2 linked regions of the Homo sapiens genome follow. The protein of the gene in region 1 purifies or fractionates together with the protein of each later gene. This does not show direct contact. Each region holds a gene or a part of one and is shown in the gene's direction. Other genes may lie near its edges.

The links.
Region 2: the proteins of RPE65 (region 1) and ZMYM2 purify together in Homo sapiens (affinity purification with mass spectrometry; 2 studies listed by BioGRID and IntAct, with this or other methods). This does not show direct contact.

Annotation. Positions count from the first base shown.
Region 1 is NC_000001.11:68,446,955-68,456,636, reverse strand, and holds the start of RPE65 (retinoid isomerohydrolase), read left to right. Parts: upstream 1-6,682; 5' UTR 6,683-6,731; coding exon 6,732-6,742; exon of another isoform or gene 6,743-7,930; coding exon 7,931-8,013; exon of another isoform or gene 8,014-8,105; intron 8,106-9,682.
Region 2 is NC_000013.11:19,954,600-19,961,726, forward strand, and holds the start of ZMYM2 (zinc finger MYM-type protein 2), read left to right. Parts: upstream 1-4,127; 5' UTR 4,128-4,242; exon of another isoform or gene 4,243-4,360; intron 4,361-4,424; exon of another isoform or gene 4,425-4,536; intron 4,537-4,651; exon of another isoform or gene 4,652-4,993; intron 4,994-5,358; coding exon of another isoform or gene 5,359-5,427; intron 5,428-7,127. UniProt on the Homo sapiens protein: Involved in the negative regulation of transcription.

The DNA of each region.
Region 1 (9,682 bases):
AGAATCCTCTTTTGTGCTTTTTTTTGGTGGATGTGAATCAAGAGCTGATTAACTAAAATCAGAGTACAATCAAGATTTTAAGTAAAATACTTCAAATTCTTTTTAAAAAAATCATTAAGCACTCATTTATAAACAAAACTTTTACTCTTGCCTGCTCAGTTCATTCAGGCAGCTCTTCTAGTGGGCCTCTACTAACTTAGTCAACCATCAACAAATTTTAAGCTCTTGTACTGATGCCCTAAGCATAATGAAGCAGAAGTGTTGCAGGAAGCCTGCTGCCAGGCGCTACCTTTTCAAAACATTAAATGTCAAAACATATCACACTCAAGCCAGAGACCACAAGTAATTTTGATGTTTATTACTCACACAGGCAGTGGAAGGCAAGAAGGATTCTCTAAATGAGAGATGAAACCCACCAGCAAGAGGGCACTCTGACATCCACTAGAGGGGGGAAAATAGAAAGATACATGGCCAGGGCTATCCCTAGGTCCCTCTTCCCCATGACATTTTTGAATGATGCCTGGGCAGACTAAGTTCTGGCAGTGGTGGAGAGACAAGAGGAGCAGGGAAGGTTGCCTTGCATGTGATTTATGGGTGTGAAGCAGAAGTGAGTGCAAAGCTTTGCTAGTCTGTCCATTTTCCCCTGAGGGAACAGGTGGCTGTCTCCAGTTTCCACCCTGACAGGTATTGAACAGTTTAGCCAAATATCAATGTGCTAAGCATGACAATTCTATTTCTCTACAATAAGCAAGAAGAGCAAGACAGACATGCTAACGAGTGAAATAATATAATGTGGTCTAGACATATATGAGTTTCAGAAAAAGAACAAAGGATACCATCCTGTCTGAGGCATTCCAGGAAGGTTGTACTCTATCAGGGTTATGACAGACACTGGGAATTTGACAGACGGGCAAGAGAAGGAAGGGAGGCCCAAGCAAAGGGCTCAACAAAGTGAAGGGAGGCCTGAAACAATATGCAATCCATGAGAGACAGTGGCCAGCTTGGTACTGCCAGAGCACAAAGGAAAGGGGAAAATGGCAGATGATGGCACTAAGAAGCCAGCAGGGGACAAGATGGGAAGGATCTTATAGCTGTGCTAAAGTGATTGGACTTTATTGAGTAAGTTCTGTAGACCTCTTAAAAACCTCAAGGAAGGAAGATGGTCAGATTTTCCTTTAAAAGAATGCCTCTGGCAGTATGGTTGGGAATGAGTTGAAGAGAGATTTCAACCCTTCCCAGCTAACTTTCCAGCAAGTCAGCTGGGAAGCCTCCAGGATCATCTGTCTATAAGGAGTACTAAAGTATCATTGAGCATGTAATGAAAATGAGAAAATTATATTTGCTAGAACTTCTATATGTGGATGGAAGAAATACTTATAAAATGTAGGCTCAGACTACTTTGGGTCAAATCCTACCTCTACTGAGAAAATTCCTTCAGGGTAGGTAGCATGAGGGCTGCTATTGGGGAAGGAGCAAGAGGGACAAGTAAGTGTCTTGGAGAAGATGAATGTCTTACAGGCTTCTCACATCTCACGTTTAACTGAGAATTCGTAATATACCCATTTCCACTCAGCAATTTCTCCCCTAGTCCTGGAGACTAGTTTGACAGTCATTCAATTGCTCTTTCTAAAACCTAGAAATCGAATTTGGGTCTCCCATGTGCTGAAAAAATGCTTTCAATTCTACATCCTTCCCTGTTTTCATGACCTCTGCAGTGTGACACTGTAGTCCTTCTCACTGAAGACTACCAAGGTCAAAGCTATTTTCACCCCACTCAAAGTCTAAGCTGGCCACATGACTTGTTTTGGCTAGTAGAAAGTGGTGAAAGTGACAGTAGATCAGTTCTGAGCCTAGGCCTTAAGCGGCTTCTCCTGTTATCACTTGCTCTTTCATTTGTCATTGCCAGGGGAATAAGCCCTGGCTGGCCTGCTGGAGAGGAGAGGTATAGCAGAGCCAAATAACCTCACTTATTTCAGCCAGTATCTAGACAGCAAGGTAAACTCCAGTTATGAAAGCAAATTAAGACATATTGCAGATACACCTAGCCAACCACCCGAGAAACTTACTCTTGTGTGACACTGAGGTTTGCTGTTTGGCTTTTATGCTACAATGTTAGCAATAGATAGGTGATGATCTTTAACTCATTTTCTTATATCCCATATATATCAACCTATCATGTGTCCTATAATTTCTACCTACAAAACATATCTCAAATCTTTCAATCTTTTTTCCATATGCATTGCTCTACTGTAATCTAAGCACCATCATCACCTCACCTGAAATGAACTGCCAGTTTCCCTACTTCCTTTCTAGACACTTATAATCCATTCTTCAAATACCAGTGGGAGTGATTTTTTTCCAAAACATAAATCAGATCCCTCAGTCATTCCCCTGTTTAAAGCCCTGAATATCTTCCCATTGCTCTCAGAACTCAATCCAAACTCCTCACCATGACCTGCAGGCCCCAGCTGATCTGCCTAATATCAGGATGAAAAAGCAGCTTTTATAATACCCTCTAAACCAGTTTCTTCAAAGAAATGTGGAATCAGTTTCTATTTAGAAATCTCTGTAGAAAGGTGTTTTGCTATTTTAATTCATGGAATATTATTTTGGTAAATACACCAAAGTATGTCAAAATAACAGTTTCTTAGGCAGACACAGAAATTGGACATAAAGATCTGATTTTACCAAAAGACAAAAAATTAAGGTGGGGAAGGAATAAAAGGAGATGATGAAAAGAGAAGTAACAATACATTGGGGATCCGGTGTATCACACTGAAACCACAGAAAGATAAAGTTAGACCTAGAAAAGAGGTCTACATTTGAGGATATAGGAGCAAAGAGGTCAAAATCATGCTTTGAAAGGATGTGGACATCTGATCTTTAACTTCACACCAATGGCAGAATAAGAAAAAAATGGGTTACTTCTGAGGTAGGAAGTAGTAGCTAGAAGATTAGACACTCTCAAACTTCCTGAGAATTGACATTAATAAGCATTACTTAATATTCATATGGAATACTTCTGGCTAAAGAATGCTTTTGCATATTTTCCCTGTCTTATACCTGAGGAGCTCAGGGTTCAATGAAATTTAATACACAGAAATTAGTTTTCATCCTGAATTTCTCCAAGCGTACTAATTTGATGATTCATATGGCCTACGGGTTTGTGAGCATTCCTAGAATGAATTGCCATGATTTGTACTTTTAAAAGAAATATCCTTCAAGAAGCTGACTTCTAGGATCTATACGTTGAAGCATAAAGGATACCACAGACGCAAAACAATGCAAAAAGTGCTAAAACCAGTTGCTGTTCTTAAACAATGTGGTTATAGCCCCAGAACACCAAAGGCAGCACAGGGATATCTAAGAAAGGCACTTGGTGCAGACACGGGCACCAGCAAGACCGGATTCTCATCTCCCAGGAGGTGAACTTAAATGCAGTTTGTTAATGCTCTCTCTCTCAACTAGTATACGCTTTCTTTCCGACAAAGACTTCTCTTTCAGCCTCTTGTAATGGGAGGGGAGAGGTGAAAATTTTAAAAAGCTGCTGGGTCTTGATATTAGTGGAATTTCTCTCCAATGAACTGACAGTGTACAGGTATGACAACATGGCCTGTAGCTCTTCTCGAAGAGAAGAGACTGCTGAGAAAATAAAATCCAACAAAAATGCTGCAGGAGAAAGTCTTTCTAACATGCTCATTCCTCTGCCTTCTCTCACTCTGCATCTTTCCCTAAGAATGCCACCTCCATCTTTTTTCTATGTCAACACTGAGCTTATCCTTCAGATGCTAACTCATTCAGCCTCCCTATTAGGCTCTCAAATGATTACAGGCCCCGGGGATCTTCTCCTTTAATAAATAAGTTCAAATCACAATCAGAATTCATTTTCTCTGTATCCCTGAAACATCACACACACACACACACACACACACACACACACGGTGTGCATTATCTGAATGAATTGTACCAGAAACCAGAAACCCACCGGTAATCCTTTTTTATGCCTTTTATTTCCCCAACACATTTACCAGTCCCAGAGTTAGATTAGGCCTCCTCTGAAGTATCTCTTGAATTTCACTATTCGTATCCATCCCTCAGTGTACCTGCTTACAACAGCTATCTCCACTTGTTTGATCTGTGCCTCCCTTTAATTTGTCTTGCCCAAATCTCCTATTCCAGTATATTATCCACAATGCATTCTAAGTCGTCCTACTAAAATGCAAATCAGATCATGTCACTCCTCTGGATAAAATATTTCAGTGATTCCCCTTTTCTCATGACAAGGGTCTGGATTTCTGTAAATGGTTTATGATGTTCTTTTTTTTTTTTTTTTTTTTTTGAGATGGAGTCTCGCTCTGTCACCCAGGCTAAAGTGCAGTGGCACGATCTCAGCTCACTGCAAGTTCCGCCTCCTGGGTTCACGCCATTCTCCTGCCTCAGCCTCCCGAGTAGCTAGGGCTACGGGTGCCCACCACCACACCCGGATAATTTTTTGTATTTTTAGTAGAGACGGGGTTTCACCGTGTTAGCCAGGATGGTTTCGATCTCCTGACCTCGTGATCTGCCCACCTCGGCCTCCCAAAGGGCCGGGATTACAGGCGTGAGCCACTGTGCCTGGCCTAGTTTATGATGTTCTACACAATCTGGCCTATGATTATCTCTAGTCCAGTTTCATCTCTAGCTATTTTCCCACCTTATGTTAGCCTCTAGACTTTTATAAATAACACAAGCTGTGCCTGAACACTCTTCTACCTGCCCTTTGACTGGCTAACTTTTATATATTTATCCCATCTCAGCTTAGATACTTCCTTTTTCTCCTGGAGGTTCCTAATGCCAGTATCAATGTTCTTCCTGGGTGGTACCACAGCATCCTACGGTGACGAGGAGGAGGTGGCCTAGATCCTTCCTTTTCTTGGTAAAGGGTGGAAGCAGTGTGGATACTTTACTTGGTGTGTTCTGATATCCATGTGTCACTAGGCACTTGTTCTTTGTGTCTTCACATCTCCTCCTGTTGCATTTTAAAGCACTTTCATAGTATATGGTTTTGCCTAATAAAGCATTCTCATAGCAAAAAAAAAAGTATGGTATTGTGCAAATAAGTGCTCACTCCAAATTAGTGGTATATTTATTGAAGTTTAATATTGTGTTTGTGATACAGAAGTATTTGCTTTAATTCTAAATAAAAATTTTATGCTTTTATTGCTGGTTTAAGAAGATTTGGATTATCCTTGTACTTTGAGGAGAAGTTTCTTATTTGAAATATTTTGGAAACAGGTCTTTTAATGTGGAAAGATAGATATTAATCTCCTCTTCTATTACTCTCCAAGATCCAACAAAAGTGATTATACCCCCCAAAATATGATGGTAGTATCTTATACTACCATCATTTTATAGGCATAGGGCTCTTAGCTGCAAATAATGGAACTAACTCTAATAAAGCAGAACGCAAATATTGTAAATATTAGAGAGCTAACAATCTCTGGGATGGCTAAAGGATGGAGCTTGGAGGCTACCCAGCCAGTAACAATATTCCGGGCTCCACTGTTGAATGGAGACACTACAACTGCCTTGGATGGGCAGAGATATTATGGATGCTAAGCCCCAGGTGCTACCATTAGGACTTCTACCACTGTCCCTAACGGGTGGAGCCCATCACATGCCTATGCCCTCACTGTAAGGAAATGAAGCTACTGTTGTATATCTTGGGAAGCACTTGGATTAATTGTTATACAGTTTTGTTGAAGAAGACCCCTAGGGTAAGTAGCCATAACTGCACACTAAATTTAAAATTGTTAATGAGTTTCTCAAAAAAAATGTTAAGGTTGTTAGCTGGTATAGTATATATCTTGCCTGTTTTCCAAGGACTTCTTTGGGCAGTACCTTGTCTGTGCTGGCAAGCAACTGAGACTTAATGAAAGAGTATTGGAGATATGAATGAATTGATGCTGTATACTCTCAGAGTGCCAAACATATACCAATGGACAAGAAGGTGAGGCAGAGAGCAGACAGGCATTAGTGACAAGCAAAGATATGCAGAATTTCATTCTCAGCAAATCAAAAGTCCTCAACCTGGTTGGAAGAATATTGGCACTGAATGGTATCAATAAGGTTGCTAGAGAGGGTTAGAGGTGCACAATGTGCTTCCATAACATTTTATACTTCTCCAATCTTAGCACTAATCAAACATGGTTGAATACTTTGTTTACTATAACTCTTACAGAGTTATAAGATCTGTGAAGACAGGGACAGGGACAATACCCATCTCTGTCTGGTTCATAGGTGGTATGTAATAGATATTTTTAAAAATAAGTGAGTTAATGAATGAGGGTGAGAATGAAGGCACAGAGGTATTAGGGGGAGGTGGGCCCCAGAGAATGGTGCCAAGGTCCAGTGGGGTGACTGGGATCAGCTCAGGCCTGACGCTGGCCACTCCCACCTAGCTCCTTTCTTTCTAATCTGTTCTCATTCTCCTTGGGAAGGATTGAGGTCTCTGGAAAACAGCCAAACAACTGTTATGGGAACAGCAAGCCCAAATAAAGCCAAGCATCAGGGGGATCTGAGAGCTGAAAGCAACTTCTGTTCCCCCTCCCTCAGCTGAAGGGGTGGGGAAGGGCTCCCAAAGCCATAACTCCTTTTAAGGGATTTAGAAGGCATAAAAAGGCCCCTGGCTGAGAACTTCCTTCTTCATTCTGCAGTTGGTGCCAGAACTCTGGATCCTGAACTGGAAGAAAATGTCTATCCAGTAAGTATCTCTGGGAGACTTTTTTAAAACACCTTCATGGATTCATGATAAATGTGCTATTTCAAGGGCTCCTGAAGAGAAGGCATTGATTAATGACCTGTTTAGGAAAGACCCTTGAATTTTGGTGGGGAAATTTTTTCCTGCTTATGTATTAAAGCAACTAGCTAGAATTCAGGTCCAAATTATGGGGGGTTTGTGTGACTTAGCCCGGGGTTTGGAAGCAGTCTTGAGTATGGGGATTTCAGACAGACTTGGGCTCCACTCCTTGCCCAGTCATTTCCTAGTGTGTGACTTTGGACAAATTACCTAACTTTTTAAGTCTAGCTTTTCCTGTATATAGAAAGATGTCACAATAGCTTTTACTCCATTATGTTACTGTGAGATTTAAAAGAGATAATACCATGCAAAGTTCTTTTTATGGTATGTAGGACATAGTAATTGTTTAGTAAAAGGTAATTATTATAATTGAGTCTGGTCAGAGATTCCACTCTTTGAAGTTACAACATGAAACTGAACAGAGGATGTAGAAAGTAAACAAAAATATAGAACCTGAATCTCCTGGTCTGACTATGATGAAAAAGTACTGTAGGTCTTGGGGATTGGTAGAGAAATGAGATGATGGGGAAAAAATTATGGTATAATATGAGTGAATAATGAAAGATGAGGTACCTGACCCAAAAAGCTGTCATCTCTCAACCCCTAGGAAGGAGATAAATGGGTCTCTCCTTGAGGCAAGAAAATCAATGATGCTGTGAGCTGAGCATGTTGATAGGGTGGGAGAATACTGTGGGAAGGACCCTGTTTAGGAACAAATTTCAGGAAGTGAACTGATGGCAGTAGGATTGATTGATTTGTCTTCCGAAGTAAGGAAAAACTGCAGAGGACAGGATTAAGTTCACTGTAACCATTGACATTAAAAGAGAGGTCATGTCTCTTGACATCAGAGCAGTGATCTGGGACCCCCTTCCATACCTGAGTAGTCTTCCCCACCCCCAGCCTCACGTGCTCCTCCCGCCCTCACCTTCGCTTCTCCCCCCACCCCCACCCCCACCCAGCTGAGACTAGACCGGCAGGAGTGAACAGGCTTTGAGCCAGCCCTAGAGTGCCTTCTCTCCTGCAGCTCTGCCTCTATCTCTGCGGACTTTGAGCATCAACATGGGCTTCTTCCTTATTCTTCCACCATTTCAGGGTTGAGCATCCTGCTGGTGGTTACAAGAAACTGTTTGAAACTGTGGAGGAACTGTCCTCGCCGCTCACAGCTCATGTAACAGGTTGGTCTCGCCCATCTTGAAGCCATCCTCTTTTATGTCAGTCTCTCTTCTCTGGCTTCCTATTCCTTGGCGTCTCTCAGTGCAGACTCCCCCTGTGGGTCACAGGGAGAGGGATCAGGTGGTTTGGGCTTTTTATAGCAAGAACCCATTTTCTTTCATTCGCCTTTACTTTATTTCTCTAATGCAGAAAAACGCTACCTAATTGGAATTCCCTAAGGATCAGGATTACACCTTTGTCATCTTCAAACTGTCAGTGCCTAGCTCAGTGCCTGGCACATAGTAAATGTCCTATAAATGTCTGTTCCATTGGTGTCTGAATAAATGAAGGCCCAGTGACAAGCACCTGGGAGTATTAAAGGGTGGTGGGTTTCATGCCCATTTTATTAGAGGAATGTTGGTTCTGCTGGGAGGCAGATGTAGATGCTAACCTAGCTCTATCATTTCACTGTCTGTGAATCCTCTAAGTTACTTAAACGTTCTGAGCCTCAATTCCCTTACCTACAAAAACCCAAAATTTACGTCATGAGGATGTTGTGAAAATTAAGTGGAGTAATGTAAATAGAATGATTCACCCACTATCCAACACAAAGTGATCAATAGACAGTAATTATTACTATCAGTATCATTATTAGTTATAGGAAATAATCCATTTGCTTGAAAAACTTCACTGGTAGGAATCAAGGAAGCACTGTCAATCACTGCCCTTCTCAAAGGATAAACCTACCTGGGGTTTTTTTTGTTTGTTTTTTTGTTTGTTTGTTTGTTTTGTTTTTTGAGACAGAGTCTCGCTCAGTCGCCCAGGCTGGAGTGCAGTGGGATGATCTCAGCTCACTGCAAGCTCCGCCTCATGGGTTTATGCCATTCTCCTGCCTCAGCCTTTCCAAGTAGCTGGGACTACAGGCGCCCGCCATCACGCCCGGCTAATTTTTCGTATTTTTAGTAGAGACGGGGTTTCGCCGTGGTCTCGATCTCCTGACCTCGTGATCCGCCCGCCTAGGCCTCCCAAAGTGCTGGGATTACAAGCGCGAGCCACCGCGCCCGGCCCTACCTGGGTTTTTAGGGACAAACCTAACTGTGAAAGCTGAGAGGCCTTAAGGACTATCTTGGGTACCCCACATTTTGCAGATGAGAACACTGAGGTCCAGAGATGACATGTGAGCTGATCCTAAACCAGAAGTCATGTCCCTGACATCCAACCCTGTGGACTTTCTGCTACAGCAGATTGACTTTCATCCAAGCAGTAGCTCACACTCACAGAGGGATATAGCTCTAGATTTTAAAGAGCCAGGATTCCTGTTTTTTCATTTAAATAGTCTTTTTTCTATAGACACATCTTTTTAAAATACATTTATTCTCACTCTTAATCCATACTTCTACTCCTCACTCCACTAAAATATATCAAGAAATTTGAAAATCTTCTTAAAAATGAGATGGCAAAAGGCAAATGGATTGGTGTTTGGGGAAATCTATTAGGTGGAGAGTCCCAATCCTCTCAAGATGCTTCTCCCTCACTCCTTCCAACCCTTTATCCACACTCTGGGGCATCTCCACATTTCCCAAGGTGTGATCTCCTAGTGAAGGTGAGTCAAGTCAGCAGACATTTTCTAAGTGCTGTCCAGCGCGAGGGCTGGAAATGAAAATCACTGCCAGCTCTATGAGGAAGAAGCTG
Region 2 (7,127 bases), on another chromosome or scaffold:
TAATACCAAACATCATTCAGTATAAGCAAATTATAAATGTCAACTTAAAACTAACAATTTTTATTTAAAATTCTTATTTTTGAATCCTATGAGAAGCATCCTACCCAGGAGTACTATGTTTATATATCAATAAGTAATATTAAACTTGTTTCAGTCTTTGTTCCTTCTTTCATAGAAAATTTTCTTCAGTGTTTCCATTGTTAAAATATTGTTGTTTTTTTTTTCTTTTTGAGACAGGGTCTCACTCTTTGCCCAGGCTGGAGTGCAGTGACACAATCTTAGCTCAATACAACCTCTGCCTGCCGGGTTCAAGCAACTCTCCCACCTTAGCCTCCTGAGTAGCTGGGACTACAAGCATGCACCACGCTGCCCGGCTAGTTTTTGTATTTTTTGGTAGAGATGGGGTTTTACCATGTTGGCCAGGATGGTCTCAAACTCCCGATCTCAAGTGATCCACCTGCCTTGGCCTCCCAAAGTGCTGGGATTACAGACATGAGCCACTGCGCCCGGCCCCAAGACTACTTGATTTAGTTACTGCAATTATTATTATTATTATTATTATTATTATTTGGATTATGCGGTAGCATAGTATTGGTGGTAGAGATATCAATATGGTCCTAGTAGAATATTATAATTTTTTTCTAATATTTCATTGAGTCAAGTATGAATGATAAAAACAACTAAAATTTACTGAGGTCTATATTAAGTGAGGTGCAAGGTGCAAGTTTTATACATGTATGCTCGTTTCACCCCCTAAAAAACTCTATGAAAGAGGAATTATTATCTACATTTCACACATGATGAAACGATCAGAGGCTTAGAGAAGCTTACACATGACTAAAAGCATCTAGCTAGTTGCTAGTTGTGGGTAATGCCAGAATTCAGATGGGGGCAGTCTGGCTCTTTAAGCTGTGCTCAGAGTCAGTTTTACTACATCTCAATTAACGGTGAGCTCTTGGTCTTCGAAATGCAATTAAACCTAACACTTTTATATCACTTTCACAGAAGTTACTTGGTCCTTATAACAACTCTTTTTTTTTGAGATGGAGTCTTGCTCTGTTGCCCAGGCTGGAGTGCAGTGGTGCGCTCTCGGCTCACTGCAACCTCCGCCTCCTGGGTTCAAGCGATTCTCCTGCCTCAGCCTCCTGAGTAGCTGGTACTACAGGCGGGTGCCACCATGCCCAGCCACAACAACTGTTTATTACTTTACTTTACAAATAAGGAAATGGACTCAGAGAGAAGGTAAGTTTCTGAGGTTTTGAGTGGCCAGATATTTGAAATACAAGTCTTTTGCTCACGTCTTGCAGCTGCCTCTTGGATGTCTGGTATGCTTTTTGACAGGTACAGAATAGATTAATACACACACACACAGTTTTAGTTGTGGATTTATTGAGATATAATTGACATATCATGCAATTCACACATTTAAGGTATGCTGTTCAGAGGTTTTTAGCACATTCACAGTTGTGCAATCATTTCAGTCAATTTTAGAACACTTGAGTCACTCCATTAAAAAACCTCGTAACTTTTAGCTACCATTTTCTACTCCCCACTTCTCCAGTTCTGGGCAACCAGTAATCTACTTTCTGTCTCTACAGATTTGCCTATTATAGACATTTCTCGTAAATGGAATAAAATATTCAGTGGTCTTTTGTGTCTTGTTTATTCACTTAGCATAATGTCTTTAAGGTTTGTCCATGTTGTAGTGTATATCAGAACTTCACTCCTCTTTAGGTCTGAATAATATTCCATTGTATGGATGTACCACATTTTGTTTATCCATTCATCAGTTGATGGACATTTCAGGGATGTTGGAAATTATGAATAATGCTGTTATGAACATTCAAACATTTATTTTTAAAATTACTTTTATGTAAAATTGTCTGCTTTTTAACATTATGACAAATACTTTCTTCCCAGTTCTAAATTCTCAACGAAAAATTCTCCCTGATATCAGACCAGCAAACCAATGAACAGTTGCATGGACAGATGTACCTGAATGAATTTAAAAAGTAAATAATAAATACTATAATTAGCACAGTTGCTCATTAGTTATATAAAACAGCAATAACACTAGGGAATTAGTAGCAGTATAGAGCTCCAACTGAACAGTACGTGGCAACCCAATCTATCATTTATCACAGAGCTTATTTGGAAGTATTAGTCTACTTTAGTCTTCTAAATGTAAATTCAATGAGCTGAAGCTACTTCAATAGGACCTGGCAGCAGAAAAGGAATGATGTAAGTTTTCACCAAATTATTACAATTTGGTAGTAGAGGATGTTTGTTTTGATGATAGTGGCTGTTTTTGTTGTGATGTTTCTGTTGTGATGATAGTTTTTCAGTCTAAACCAGTACTGTGTAATATGAAATCTTAAGAGGCTATTTTAGTGTATTTAAAACTAAAAAATTTTAGTTACAAAGTTTCCTAAAAATTAGTGATACTTTTTGAAAAGCTGGTTCAAGTACATTTTATTAATTTTTTTCAATAAAAGAGAACAGTGTATTCAAGGTATTTAGTACAAGGTGGAAAGCCTACTTGATTTATTTTTTTTAATGAGTGAATGAATTCAACTTCTACTAGATTATCCTCTGTAAGTTGCGTCTATTAGTTTACACATCAGTCTTTCACGGGTGATTAACCTCACTAAAAACTTCATGTTCATCAATATTGTGTTGAACTTGAAACTGTATTATCATATATGTTTATTAATAGGCAATGGTGTCAGATAATCGTGAAATTGAGAAGTCGCCCATCCATTTGGGTGGGAAAATAACCAACATCCTCAGTTGTAATCCCACTAAGAACCGCCAGGGCGAGACGAAAGCGACATCGCTTCCATCTTTACGTGAGTCTTGGAAATGGTTCAGCACCATGACGTCCGCCGAAGACGTAGGTGTAGACGAGGAACAAAAGAGAAGACCCCTCGTGGAGGTGGCCTGTGGGGCCCGCCCTCCTCGGGCGCCTGTCGTCGTCTGTCCCTGACTCCGCTCCCCCCGGCGGCCGCAGCGAGTGCGCCCCGCGATGCAGCGGGCTGTGGAGGGAGCCTCCATGGAGTCTCCATCAACCATTGAGGACCAGGAGACGGTGGCAGGCGGTAGAGAGGCCTGGGCAGGGCCAGCGCCCCGGGCTGCGGAGCACAGGACGGCGGCGCCCAAGGACGCCCCAGGGCAGGCCTCAGCCCCTCCAACCGGTGGGAGCCCAGCTCCAGGGGAGCCCGCAGCTCCCTCCATCTTGGTTGATGGAGGCGGGGAGCTGCGTCTGGGTCTCTCCACCGTCGTGCCCGTCCCCTGTGGCCCCGCGGACGCAGACGCCAGCAGCCGGGGTTGTTCCCTTGGCCGAATGGCAGAGTCCAGTTGGGGCTTCCCGAGGACAAGTTTCCCGGCCCCACGGGGTTTGGTTTTTAGGGGGTCCCAAGTTCCCACAGTCGTTCCGACAAAATGGAGGACGTCGTCTCCTCCTGCTGCAGCCATGGCGGGAGGTGGGGGACTATTCCCCACGGGGCGCGGCGAGGGTGGAAGGGCCTCCACTGCCCCCAGCGCGGTCGGGATTCCAGTTCACCCGCGGTCCCGAAAGCCCACTCGGACCCGCTCCAGCGCCTCCCCGGCCTCGCCCCTCGCAGGGGCCTTCAAGCAACTGGACAGGGAGGGCGTTGGGGCATCGAGGCCGCGGCTCTCCTCGGGCAGAGGCGTTGGGAGCCGCTGCCGCGGCCTGGGCGCCCGGGCTCGGGCGAGGGCAGGCGGCCCCGCCGGAGTCTCCCGGGCTGTGTAGGTCCCGGAGAGCCCCGGGCCCCGAGGAGCCGAAGCGGGTTCGGTACGGCGGGCAGCGAATCTCGGGCTCCTGACCCTGGCAGACCCGGTGGGTGGGGGCGGGGGACCGGCGGGGAGGGGACCCGGCCAGGAGTCGAGGGCCGGCGGAGGCGGGAGTGGAACGGCAGGGCCGGGGGAGTGGCCCGCACCTGACGGACAGCCCTTCGGACCACCCTACCGAGGGGGGGCCCTGAAGGACGGCCGTCGGAGCCAATGGGCGTGCCCGAAGCGCTCCGGCCAGCCTTCCCCGTCAGCCAATGAGCGCGCGGAGGGCGGGGCCTCCCCGGGCTCGGCCGCGCCGCCGCCTCCTCCGCCTCCTCCTCCTCACCAGCGCTAAAGCCGGGACTGGACCGAGCGGAGTTGTGCGTGTCGCCGAAGGGGGGTGGGCCGGGGGAGGGGAGGTTCGTTCCGCGGAGCCCCAGCCAGAACCGGGTGAGGCTTATCCCCGCTGTCTTTCCAGTCCAGGGCCGCCGAGAGTGGGGGTGGCTGGGAGCAGCGCAGCCTCCGGAGGAGGAGGCGGAGGCGGAGGCGACTAGGGAGGCGGAGATGGGTGAGGGCAGCCTCCGGAGCCTCCCACCGACCCGGGATTAATACCCCGCGGCGCGGCCGCCGTCGCCGCTGCCGCGTCGGGGCCTCGGGGGCAGCTCGGGGCTGCGCTCATGTCACAGGCGCCTTTGCGTGCGGCCCGAGGGGCTGGGAGAGTGCGGGCGAGGCCGGGAGGGCTGGGTGAGGCGGCCGCCAGCGGCGGGGGTCGCGGGGCCGGCGGGGCGGCGGGACGGCGGGACGGCGGGGCGGGGGTGCCGGCCGCCCGGGGAGGTCGCGGGGCATTTTCCTTTCTCTCCGGCGGGGGGCGGGGGAGGGGCGCCCCGGCTGGGTCTCCGCTCTCGGGGCAGCGCTCCCACCCTGTCCACCGGAGCCGAGGTCCCCAAGTTTTTCGGGGTGAGGGCTGCTGCCTCTGCTCCGCCGGGTCCCCTCCTTCGCTCTTCTTTTCCTCGGCGCTGCGCTGCGCGGCTCTTGCTCCGCACGTATTGTTTGGCTGGGTCTCTAATGGCGGACGGGGAGGCAGCGCTGCCGGTCGCCGACTGCAGGGGGGGGCAAACCTCAGGCCCAGGGCAACTGCTTGGGGCAAATGTGGGCGATATCGGCCCAGCAGTGACGTGAGCCGCCCCTTACCTCTGAATTGGTACTTGGAGTGACGGGGATGACGCTGGGTGGGCAAATTTAGGAGGGAATACAAATCCCTTGCTGGCGTCGAGGCAACGTTTTCCCTTCCCCCCTCCCTTCCCGGGAGCAGGCTCGGTGTCCTTAGGCCCCCTCCCTTCCAGATTTTGCCTTTCACATGGGTTTTGGCCCCAAATATGTATTTTGCGCTGTTTTGCCCCACTTACGCAGGAGGGGGCTGTTGTGCGCATGGTGGGGGTAATAATAGAAGGACCGAACCTCCTTGACCTCTTATTCCCTTCTCTGCCTCCTTCTGGCAGAAAGGGTTGGGTTCTCCCACCAGGTTGTGTGTTTTTGATACATTTTTCTTTTTTCCTCCTATCCCAGGACCAAGAATCGCCTTCAGCCCTGTCTGGTGCATCCTTGGCAGAAAGTGAGGAGGAAAACACCCCCATTGTGAGTCCTTTGCCCCTAATTTGTTGCTAATAGAGGACATTGTCAGGTTGTAGGGGTTAAGCTATGGGACCTGGCCCTCCCCGTTGTTTTGAGGGGGAGGAGCTTTCCCTTGGGTGGCAGCTGCCCCCAGGGCGAAGCCTGGGTAATGGCTGGTGAGGCAGCTGGGAGTGGGCGCTGCTGTTTCCACCGCTGCAGACATCGCTCCTGCTGCTGCAATACCAACCTCAGCAACCAGACGACGGGCTTCTGCAGCTGCTCACGTTACCCGGGAGGAGGGGTGGTGCGAAGGAGGGCATATTTCTGGTGCCCTCTAGAGTTCCAAAATGGGAATTAAAGTTATTTCTTGTTGAATGCTGTGCATGCAACCTGAACATTTTTTCTTCCTTAAACAATGGCTAATTGATTGAAGGAATTGGAAACATAGAAATAATCATTTATATTTTTGTTTATGTCTGCTGGAAACACATATTTTGACACTTATGGCTCATGAGTTGCTAGATCTTTTTCATGTATTTGCTTAGGAAAGGGAGTCAACTCCTCTAGTACTATCTTGTTCACCAAGTAGTATGCTGATCAGTCCAGTGTACTGATCTAGTTAATTTCTTCGTTCCCCATCTTCCATGTTGATCATCTTTAACTTAACGATCATTTTTGAATGTGTTACCAGAGAATTATTTAATTTGTTGGTTTTAAGGCAACTATGTAATGTGCTAGAGAGGAAGATGAAGATAGCCAGTCATATTTTCCTTCAGGCAATTGAAACTAAAAGTATCTGAAGTCAGCACTCTGGACACATTATGTCTCTGGAGCCCATTGACAGTTGATGTGGTAACTTGTAGATCTCTGTCAGAGTCAGAGATGAGTTATTTACGCTTAAGTATTCAGTCCACATGGTTCAAAAAATAGTGAATTGATAAGCATTTGCTGAATATACATTGTGAAGGATGATGTGAGAATAGTAACTTACATTAAATATACACCGTTCTAGGCACAGTCCAGGACACTTTCCTTTAATCTTAGCAAGTAGCCCACAGGGTAATACCTATGGCGTGTATTGAGCCCTTATTGTATGCTAGCCCAATTCTAAGGTTTTTTTTTTTTTTTTAAGTTTATTATGGAAACTTTAAATTTTACTAGTAAGAATAGTGTACTGAACCTCCATGTACCCATCATTCACATTCTAAAATTATCAATACGTGCCCACACTAGTTTTTAACATGTGTTAAGTAATTTAATTATCACGAAAACCCAGTGATGTTGATAACCACAGTTATCAATTAGATTTTTATACTGCCTTGTTTCAAAACTAACGGGCTGTTTGGATCAGAATTAACATAGTCTCTTTTTCAATATGTCTGTACAATTTACAGTCTGTAATTGTTTTCTAAATATTGCTAACTTGAATGAATATAACATCTCTAATGAGTTTGAAGTTCATCTCAGGCATCAGATCATTCAATAATGAATCAAGGGTTAGATCTTTCAAATAGATGGATGATGCTTATCGCCACATATTTTCACAAAAGATTTATCTTTCTAGGATTTTTTTTCTTTGTTCTTAGTTATGTTGATAGGGGAAGCTTGATAATTGGTTGTGTTTAGTAGATATTTGGAGATGAGGAACATAAAAAATGCAAAATCAGTACTTTTCTGTAATGTCAACATATGTATACTAACGGAAAGCAGTGCTGCTTTTACGT